2 separate regions of the Homo sapiens genome follow, and region 2 is linked to region 1. Evidence: fine-mapped expression QTL. A gene starts in region 1. The other region holds a variant in brackets. All regions are shown on one strand. Distances are from middle to middle. Region 1 holds the start of TNFRSF8 (TNF receptor superfamily member 8). Region 2 has its middle 18 kb from the start of MIR7846.

The links. PIP is the estimated chance that this variant, and not a neighbour inherited with it, causes the effect. A credible set is the group of variants that fine-mapping cannot tell apart.
Region 2: its variant is the best candidate, but not a certain one, in a credible set for the expression of TNFRSF8 in whole blood (INTERVAL, PIP 0.83).

Annotation. Positions count from the first base shown.
Region 1 is chr1:12,059,944-12,065,320 of GRCh38, reverse strand. It overlaps TNFRSF8 (TNF receptor superfamily member 8), which reads right to left and starts at 2,018. Exons shown (of 15, transcript NM_001243.5): 1 at 1,660-2,018. The coding sequence starts at 1,722. RefSeq lists silencers at 1,626-1,755, 2,343-2,575.
Region 2 is chr1:12,145,965-12,151,341 of GRCh38, reverse strand. No RefSeq gene overlaps it. Among named protein-coding and RNA genes, the nearest start is that of MIR7846, 18 kb to the left of the region's middle. RefSeq lists enhancers at 2,791-2,920, 4,774-4,853. The variant T/C (reference allele first, on the strand shown) is at 2,191.

The sequences.
Region 1 (5,377 bases):
ACTTGAGGTCAGGAGTTCGAGACCAGACTGACCAACATGGTGAAACCTCATCTTTACTAAAAATACAAAAATTAGCCGGGTGTGGTGGCACATGCCTGTAATCCCAGCTACCTGGGAGGCTGAGGCAGGAGAATCACTTGAATCCGGGAGGCAGAGGTTGCAGTGAGCCGAGATCGAGCATTGCACTCCAGCATGGGCAACAAGAGTGAGACTCAGTCTCAAAAAAAAAAAAAAAAAAAAAAGGTTTGGTATGAGAGTTCAGGCTGTAGTGAGTTATGATCGCACTCCAGCCTGGACAACAGAGTGAGACCCTGTCTCTAACATTAAAAAAAGTGGAGGGGGCTTCACTCTACAGAAAGGAAGCACATGAGCTTCAGCTGCCAAACCAAACCAGCAAAGCCCCCCAAGCACCTCTCACATCTCTTCCTTCCCTTCATCTCCCCAAGACCTTGGCACTCCAAACTCTTACCTTCCCCCAGGTGAGGGCTTGCAGAGCTGGGACAGGGTGTCTCTAGCCAGGGCTTTGTCCCCTCTGCCCTCTTGGGGGGAAAGGGGGAATACCTCACATTGCCCATTGGAAATGGAAGAGGGCATAGTTCCTCCTTTGCTGCATAGTTCCTCCCTCCTGCCTAAAGCCCACTCTGCCACTCTCCTCCCACTGCCTAAGGTTCAGATGACTAGAATTGATCCATAGCATGGAGTCCTCTCTTCCTGTAGGATTAAAGGGGAACTGGGTCTTCCCTCTCCCCCACCGTGACCCACCGCTGGACTAACAGCCTGCTCCTTCCTTTCCCTCTGTATCATTCAGCAGGCATCCACTCGCACCTACTATGGTTCTATGCAGGGGTCCACCGGGGTCCTGGGTCAGCTGAGGGCCTCTCTCTCCAGCAGCCCCTGGGCTCCGTGAAACACGCCTGGTTACTTTGCATTCTCCCCACAGTGATTAATTTGGCGCTGGCCACTGGTAAGTGCTCAGTTTTCCTAAAGCAGTCCCCAAACTCAATTCTGAGGCAACCCACCATAGACTTCAGCCCCACCACTGACCTTCTTCCAGGGGCAAATGCCCACCACGTGCTCCAGCGAATTCAATCCACAGCGTTGCTTTGCCGGACGCGGATTGGGGAAGCTAATCCCGGTGGTCCTGCACCCTCACCCCACTCTCACCCACAGCCAACTCTCCCTCCTTTCCTTGACCCTCCAGCCAGTGGCCAGCTTAGGAAGGGGGCAAACGGGACCGCGCACACAACAGGGTAGAGCGCGGACGACCAACCTCCCATGGCTAAGGGAGGCCCCATCTGGCCTGCCCACTACTCCCACGGCCTCACCTGATCTGCCCAGGACCCCGACGGGCCCGCAGGTAGGCGGGCTAAAGAGCGCCTCCCGCGTATGGCAGTGCTCTCAGTCCAATTCACACTGAATGAATGAATCAGTCCCAGCCATCGCGGGGTGAGAAGGAGGCGCCCCCCACCACTAGCCCTTCAGCCAGCCTCCCACCTGTGGGTGCTAGCATATTCCGGTGTTCCTGCTTGTCACCCGCGCCCCCTCACTCCAGCTGGGCAGGGAACGGGGTGAGGAGTGTCCTCCCTTGCGTCCCACGCACCCCACACTGTCCGGGCTCTGGACCGCCGGCACCTCCCCAGGCGCCCGTCACCCGCTTACCTGTGGGAAGGCTCGTAGCGCCCCCAGGAACAGCAGTCCCAGCGCGGCGAGGAGGACGCGCATCCCCGGGGCCGGACGTGAGGTGGCCTGGCGGCCGGCGCCCACCTGGGAAGCGGGGGAAGCGCGCGGCGCCCACGTGCGGTCCCGGCGGTTCTCAGCCGCGCGCGTGGACTTCAGGCTCCAGCACACTCCCGCCGCGGCCACCTAGTCCGCACCCAACGCACGCCGCGAAGTCACTTCAAAAGTGGTTGTTCCTCCGAGGTTTCAGCCTTAGTTCTCCCGTATCAAATTGGTTCCAGGAACACTTAGCTACAAGCAGCGAAGAAAAAAGGGGGCAAACACGTGCAGAGATGACTCAGGAAAAGGCACACTAGGAGACGCCTCCCTTAGCTGTTTGAATGGCCCGCCCCGGATTTGACGGAACTAGTGGTCCTGGCTCTAGGGAGTGTGCTGCCCGCCGCACCTGGGCTGCGGGGAGCGGAGGCAGGCAGCTTCTGGCCCTGGAGGTGGGGACTCACAGGATATTAGGAGGCCCCAAGGGGGTTCCAATGCCCCCACCTCCACTCCTGCCCCAAGAAACGGTGAAATGTGAGTAGTTTCCTGTCCCTGACACGATCAGCCAGGACCTTCTCCCATGCCCTTGAGATTCTTTGGAAGGGACAACTGGCCTAGGGAGACTGCAGAAAAAGCAACCATCACCCACCCATCCCCATTCATAAGCATTTGCTGTAAAATGAATCAGTGAGTGGATGATAAATTGGTGGATGGATGGATGGATGGATGGATGCATAGGTGGATGGATGGATGGATGGATGGATGGATGGATGGATGGATGGATGCATAAGTGGATGGATGGATGGATGGATGGATGGATGGATGGATGGATGGATGCATAGGTGGATGGATGGATGGATGGATGGATGGATGGATGGATGGATGGATGCATAAGTGGATGGATGGATGGATGGATGGATGGATGCATAAGTGGATGGATGGATGGATGGATGGATGGGTGAGCAGCAGGTGAGTGGGTAAATGGGTGGGTGGATGGGTGGATGGATGGATGCATAGATGGATGGATGGATGGATGCATAGGTGGATGGATGGATGGATGGATGGATGGATGGATGCATAAGTGGATGGATGGATGGATGGATGGATGGATGGATGGATGGATGGATGGATGCATAGGTGGATGGATGGATGGATGGATGGATGGATGGATGGATGGATGCATAAGTGGATGGATGGATGCATAAGTGGATGGATGGATGGATGGATGGATGGATGGATGGATGGATGGGTGAGCAGCAGGTGAGTGGGTAAATGGGTGGGTGGATGGGTGGATGGATGGATGCATAGATGGATGGATGGATGGATGCATAGGTGGATGGATGGATGGATGGATGAGCAGCAGGTGAGTGGGTAAATGGGTGGGTGGATTGGTAGATGGATGGACTGAATGTTGGAGGAACTGATGGATGGTATAGATCATTTTATTTCCCTGAGGCCTGACCCTTTAGAGTTTTCTTCCTGGAGGAGGCGGCTGGCACTCTCTCCTAACAGAAATGATTCAAGCCTCCTCGTACTATGTTCTCATTTGCTGGTGAATGATTTTCCCTTCCAGTGCTTCCCCATCCCCTGGGTTTTCTCTTTGCTCCTTTTATTCCACATTCCGTGTGTCTGTGTTGAGCATCTGCTGGGTGGGCCACAGGTCAAGGGTTCTTTTGACTGATTTTGTTTGGTTTTCAGATGTGAAAGCCAAGGCTCAGAAATAGGCAGGCAGTCCTAGGTGCTCTAATTAAGGGTGGGCCAGTTATTTTCCCTGAGCCCAGAATAGCCTAAGGATACTCTGGCTTCTGTGTCTACCTTGATCTGTCCTGCGAGGTACCAGGCCTCCATCAGGTGAAGGCCCTATAGGGTAGGAGTGATAACCTCCCACCAGGAACTTCCCAGCAAGGTCTCCACAACTGACCACTCCATGCTCAACCCTCCTGGGGCTGCTGGACTCCACTTGGGAAAACTGCTCCATCATGCCCCTTCCCAAGAGACCCACTTCCAGACTCTCCTCTGGATGTACCAGGCCCAGTATCTTAGGCTGTTTGAGCTGGGACTATGTTAAACAATGAGGTAAGCAATTATGGAAGTGACCTGCCTGTGATAATGACAGAACCAGACAGGGACAGGAGGAACGCAAGACACCTGCTTCCCAGTCCAGAGCTTTCTACTACAAAAGTAGAAAAGCTGGCAGCTGGGTGACATGGCTCATATCTGTAATCCCAACACTTTGGGAGGCCGAGGTTGGAGGATCACTTGAGCCCAGTTTGAGACCAGCCCGGGTAACGTAGCAAGACCTCATCTCTATTTTTTGTTTAATTAAAAAAGAGAGAGAGAGAAGGGCTGGTGTTTTGAATAAATAAATGAACAACAGCATCAAAATAGCTTGCACAAGGAGAAATACAAATAAAAATCAATTACAAGTTTTATAAGTTTAACCTTTTTAGTAATTAAAGAAATGCAAATTCAAGCAACCTTTGATAACCTTTTAGATCTATACAATCATCATTTTTTTTTTTTTGCTTTATAAAAACAATTTTGGTAAATCCAACCCCAAAGTTGTGGTGAGACCAGAATACTCATTCATACTCTGCTGGTAAATGTTACAACCCTTTTCAGAAAGCAGTATGGCAATTTTTAGCAAAAGCCAAAAAAAAAAAAAAATGTGTACTACTTGTGAGTGGCTCAGTAATTTCACCTCAGTGAAGAAAAACTAAGGAAATAATTTAACTGGAAAACTAGAAAAAGAAAAAAGAAAACTATACAGTAACATTTCCTTATATATTATTTATAAATTTTTGAAATACTCTGAGATTCACAACAAGAAATGATTACGGAAATTGTGGTACATCCATTTAATGGAATATTGCACATCCATTAAAAAGGATAAATCTATAGATGTTGTGGAAACTTGTCTCTCCCTCATATCCTTCCCTCCATGGATTTCCAAAGAGACCTTTCTAGCACACACATCTCACCAAGACACTCCCCTGTAGAGAACCCTTGCGGAAGTATGGTGTGTGTTTTGGCAGAGGACCACGTAGAAAATTATATTATTCATTTAATGATAACAATAACAGCTACCTTTGAGTGCTTATTTTGTGCTAAGAGTTTTCAGGCATTGGTTTCTTGTATCCTCATGAAAACCCCATGAACAAGGTCCTACTTTTATGCCCATTCTGCAGGAAAGGAACCCCTGCAGTGGCTCCCCTGGGTCAGAGTCACCCAAATGCAAGGGTGCACAAGTCTGCTCACAGCCTGGCAGGGGCTGACTCCTCCCTTGTGCCTTTTTACTTCTCCTGGACCTATACTCCAGCCAAATGTGCAGCCTTCTCACCCCTGCCAGCCTTTGCCCACGCTGGCCTCCACCTGGGACGCACACAGACTCCTGATCATCTTCCTAACCTGTTCCAATGCCACCTCCTCCTTGTTGCTTTCCTGGCAGTGTCTCCTGTCCCCCAGCCCTCTTCCCAGTCAAAAAGTGGTTTCTGTCATTTTTTGTGCCGCAATTCTAGATCTGATCTCATCATGTCATAACCATAATGACTGGTTCATGCATCCCTCTGCCCCAGGAAACTGTGTACTCCTGAGAACCAGAATTCCCCCAGGGCGCCCAGGAAAGTAGCTGACACATGGCTTAAGTGGAGGGAAGGCACATTTT
Region 2 (5,377 bases), 86 kb before region 1:
GGCAGACATTGGCATGTAGGCACTAGGGAGTCATAGAAGGTTCTGTGAGGGAGAGGCCTGGCCACAGCTGGGCTTTGGAAAGGAAAGGTGGGATAAAAACCAAGAGCAAATTCCATTCCCTGTGCATTCACTGAGCCCCATGGATGCCTGCACAGTGTTCTACAGGGTCTGGGACTCAGGGCTGGGGCCTCAGCACAGTGGTGACCTCGGCCTGAGCCACAATGGAGCAGCATGGCCAAGTGTGTGAGGACGCAGACTCCAGCCAGGTGGCCTGGGTTCAAAGCCTAGCTGCGCCACTTAGCAGCTGTGTGACCCTGGGGAACTGGCTTAGCCACTCTGCGTGTTGGTTTCCTCATCTGTAACATAGGGGTAATGTAATAACTACTTCCTAGTGCACTGTGAGGTTTAAGTGAGAGCACACGAAAGCCTCAAGTACAGCTCTTATCATCTTTCTTACTAACCTGTGACTCCATGCATGGCAGGAATAAAGCCTCTTCAACTCTATTGTCAAAGCCCAACCCAGATGGGCACAAAGAGCTTCTCAGGGAACTTTCGATGCATGAACTTGGCCCAGAGGACCCAGGGTCACCCAGCGAGTGCCCCGGTATTCACCAGGAGGTCTTCTGCACAGGGTGAGGAACCCTCCCTCAGTACGTGCAGAAGCTGTATTTCCTGAGTGAAGTGTAATTGCAGTGAAAAACAACATCCCTCCTGACAGCCTGTACTTGCATAATCTACCCACAACTCTATGTGACTTCCTGACATGGTTCTGTGCAACCCAAGTTGGGGGCCCCATCCTGCCCTGGAAGGTCCCAGACCCTGCCCTCTTCCTCAGGAGAGGCCTGGCAAGACCTCTCAGAGCCTTGATTTCCCTATCTAAAAACTAGATAGGGCCTAGTTTGTATGGGTACCAAGCTCAGATGTTCTCTAATCAGACAGATGTGAGCTTGCTTTCCAGTCCTGCCACATTCTGACTGTATGGGTCCCTGAATGCACAGGTCAGCTGCTCAGTCCAGAGCTCACACTCTGGAGACAGACCAGCTTGGATCCAAATTCCAGCCAGAGGAACTTGGGATTCCACCAGGTTATGTAGCTTCCTTGAGCCAACTCCAAGGACAATAATGGCAAAATTACCGAGAGGCTAAAATGAGACAGTATGTGAAGTGCTCCTGCTGACACATAAGATCTCGAGATTCTTTGACACTCCTCCTAATGAGGGGTGGGATCTGTGTCCCCTCCCCTTGAGTCTGGGCTCTGTGACTACCTGGAATGCAGCAAAGGGGATGCAGTGCCAGTTTCCGGGGTCAAATTTTATGACGCTGGCAGTTTCTACTTCCTGCCCCCGGAGTTGTTGGCTCCAGGAACCCAGCAGCCATGCTGTGAGGAAGCCCAAGAAGCTCCACAGAGAGAAACTGACAGCCAGTACCAATTTGCCAGCCCTCTTGGAGGTGGATTCTCCAGCTCATCTCATCACCCCCGCTGGTACTATGTGAGCCGAGATGCACCTCCCCTGCTAAGTCCAGGCCACATTGCAGATTTGTGAGCAAAATTAATGACCATTGTTTTAAGCTATTAAGTTTTGAGGTGATTTGTTATGTAGCAAGAGATGACTGGAACAGTTACATCAGTTACTGGTCATTTAACACTTCTTAAAAATGGGGACATGTGTGCTCATCTATAAGGTCCCTCTGAGGTCACATGACAATGGAGGTAAAATGCTTTGGCATTAAGTGAATTCTGAATTAACGATTTCCCTGCCCCCATGCAAGATCAGCTACATAATTTGTAGAACTCCATGAAAAATGAAAACACAGGGCCCCTTGCCAAAAATTATTCATCACTTTCAAGATGGCGACAGCAGAGCATTAAACCAAGCCCAGGGCCCTTCTGAACCTGGGGCCCTCTGACTGCACGGATCAGTAGCTTGTGAAGCTGCAGAAGCCCAGCTGATGGGATATTTTTGTCTACTCTGTTTACTCTTGCAAAGCTGCCTTGTAAGTAAGAACCCAACCCTCTCACCACAGTTACTTTTAACATCAATTTTTTCTTTAAAGGAAGAATGAAAATCAGCATGTCATCTTTACTGCTCCCTTGGACTAGACAGTGACTTTCCCCTACCCCAGCCCCAACTGACAGCTACAGTTAGAGCTATCTCCATCACACAGCACCAAGCTGGGACCCTGGGAAAAC[T/C]GCTTTGCCTCTATGGGGCTCAGTTTTCCCATCTGTAAAATGGGAGGCTTGTTCTTGATCGTCTTCCTTCAGGGAGCCTCAGGTGGGGCAGTGAGCAGGATATGAGGTGTTACTGGGGATGGAAAGGGCAATTCCACTCTCAGGCAGTTCTCCCCCAGAGATTCCCTGGACTCAACCCAGCCCCGAGTCTCCCTGGACCTCAGAATCACACGCCTGTAATCCAGTACTTTGGGAAGCCAAGGTAGGAAGATTGCTTGAGCCCAGGAATTCAAGACCAGCCTGGGCAACATAGAGAGACCTGTCTCTACAAAGAAAGAAAAAAAAAAATTAGCCAGTCATGGTGGCACGTGCCTGTGATCCCAGCTACTCGGGAGGCTGAAGCAGGAGGATCACGTGAGCCCAGGAAGTTGAGGCTACAGTGAGCTGTATTTGTGCCACTGCATTCCAGCCTGGGTGACAGAGGAAGACCCTGTCTCAAAAAAAAAAAAAAAAAAGAAAGAAAGAAAGAAAGAAAAAAAAAATCACACACACCTTTGAGGAAAGCTGTGTCAAGGAAGGAGGCCCTGGCTGGGTTAGCTCTGTGTCCTTCCTGTCCGGTCAGAGCAGTCAGAAAGCCACACCCAGCCTGGAGTTTGACCTTGGGCAGGTTACCCTGCCTCTTGCAACTGTCCCTGCCTTCCCATAAAGGGAGGAATAAAATCAGCCTCTATTCTATCTCTCAGTTGTGGTGACTTGAAGATGAAAGGAAACTTATCTAGAAGGCATAGTGCCAGGGGATGACCACGATATGAACACAACCCCTGACCACAGAGGCAGCCAGGCCACCTGGGCATGGGGAGGGATTTAGAATCACAAAGTTGGGGGTTGAACTCCAGCTCTGGGACTTCCCAGCTGTGTGGCAGTGGGCCAGTTGCTTCGCTCCCCCCCACTCCCCGAGCCTCAGTTTGTAAAAGGGAGTGCTGCCACCCAGCCTATCTACTGTCCAGGGTTCTATTAGGAAGCCCAGATGTACAAAGAATGCGGCCTAGGCGAACTCTCAGCTCTTAAGATGCTGCTCTTGATGGCTGTCATTTACTGAACATGGCATACGTGCCCAGACTGGACTTCCACAGTCCCTCTCAGCCTTATAGTTCCTTTTCTTTTTTTTTTTGAAGACAGAGTCTCGTTCTGTCACCCAGGCTGGAGTGCAGTGGCACGATCTCGGCTCACTGCAACCTCCGCCTCCCAGGTTCAAGCAATTCTCCCACCTTAGCCTCCCAAGTAGCTGGGATCACAGGCATATGCCACCATGCCTGGCTACTTTTTGTATTTTTAGTCGAGACGGGGTTTTGCCATGTTGCCCGGGCTGGTCTCGAACTCCTGACCTCAAGTGACCCACTCACCTCGGCCTCCCAAAGTGCTGGGATTGCAGGCGTGAGCCACCGCATCTGGCCCCATTAGGTCCATTTTGCAGACCAGAAAACCCACATTGAACGCACATAAGGGCTTTGCTTGGGACCAAGCAGCTGGGAGCTTGTCGAGCCGGAAGCCACAGCTCCATGCCACCGTCATGAAATGGCCACTGCCTCCATGAGGGCTAAAGGGTAAAAAGCACAGGCCACCGCTGACCCTGTGATACTGAAATGATCCCTCTGCCTCATGACCGGGAAAACAATCACCACACCAAAACACAAACAAAGGCCTCCAGGCTTCCCAGGGTTTTTCAGTTTGGTTTTTACTCTCTGGAAGATACCCAGAGAAAGGGGGAAGCTAGACCGGCAGACTCCTAACCCTACCCATAGCTACAATCATCACCAGGAATGCTGTCTTAGTTCTTTCTGAGAAAACCCATCTAACTGCTTCCTGGCTGCCAGCAGCTGCTGCCTGTTTCCCCAACTTCCCTCCAAAATAGGTTAAAACAACCTTTGCCGCCCCTGGTTTGGCCTTTCTCACTGATTGCTGAAATAATACCAGGATGTTTATTGTTCTACTAGGAAGAAAACAGAAAGAAACATAGACCAGTACTTTTATGATAAAATCTAGGTGCCTAATCACAATGGCCCACCAGGCCCTCCTCCCCAGGCCTTCCCCCCTCACCTCCTTTTTTCCCTCGCCCACCGTGCCTCTTCCACCACTGTGTTCTTCCTGAAACTCGAGGCAGGAGTGTGCCCACTTCAGCTCCCTGCCTTCCAGACCTCGCTGGCTTGTGACATCACTCAGGCCAAGTTCAAAGGGCACCTTCTCAAAGAGGCTTGCCCTGACCACCTAGCTAGTGGTGGCCCTCCCCTCCCACTCTGCCACAGTACCTGGCTCAGACTCCTTGTGGTTCACAGCGTGATCTGACTCTGGAATGACCTTGTGTACTGATTTGATGACGCCACCGTCTGTCCCGTCCACCAGACACAGGACCCACGAGAGCAAGTCTGTGCCCCACTAGTCCTCAGCAGCTAGACCCTTTAATTGAGGAAAGCCCTCGAACAGTAATGTGGTGCAATCTGGAATGTGCTAGAACCACGAGTGAGATGTCCCTCCGGAGGGACCCGCAGCACTTCGCCGACATGCCCAGAGTTACAGACGTCGAATAATGAGCCAGTCCTATGACTGTGATCTGAAGGGTTCTTGGGGTAGCCCACAGAACAAGAAGAGGCCTGCCCACTGCGGGGCTTCCCACAGCAAGTTGGCCCCAAGGGTGGCTAGGTTCCCAGGCTGGCCTGAAAGCTCTGATTAACCTTGATGGGCTGAATTCTGCAGACATAGGAAGGGCTCGCTCTTGACAAGCGGCCACCAGGCTGGAATAAGGACAGAACCTGCCACTCAGCACAAGCCACACACCGAGTGGCATGTCAGGGAAGCCCCACAACCCCGTCAGGTAGAGACTGACACCCCCATTTCACAGACAAGAAAACTGAGTCTGAAAGAGATCATGGAACATAGCCAAGCTCATGCAACTGATAAATGGCAGAGCTGGGATTCGAGCCTGTGTGTGACCCCGCAGCGCCATCACCATCCGCACGCTGCTGTTGTGTCTGAGCTGCAGAGAATGGCAGGCAAGCCTCTCTGCCCTGTGCCTGGCTCACACCCATGGCCCCAACATTGAACACCTGCTCCCCTGGGTCAGCCAGGGGCAAGGGTTCCAGGGTGTTTGGCCAGCATGGGGTGCTGGCTTAGGAGGAGGTGCCTGGCAGAGGGGCCTGGTGGAGGGTGCAGG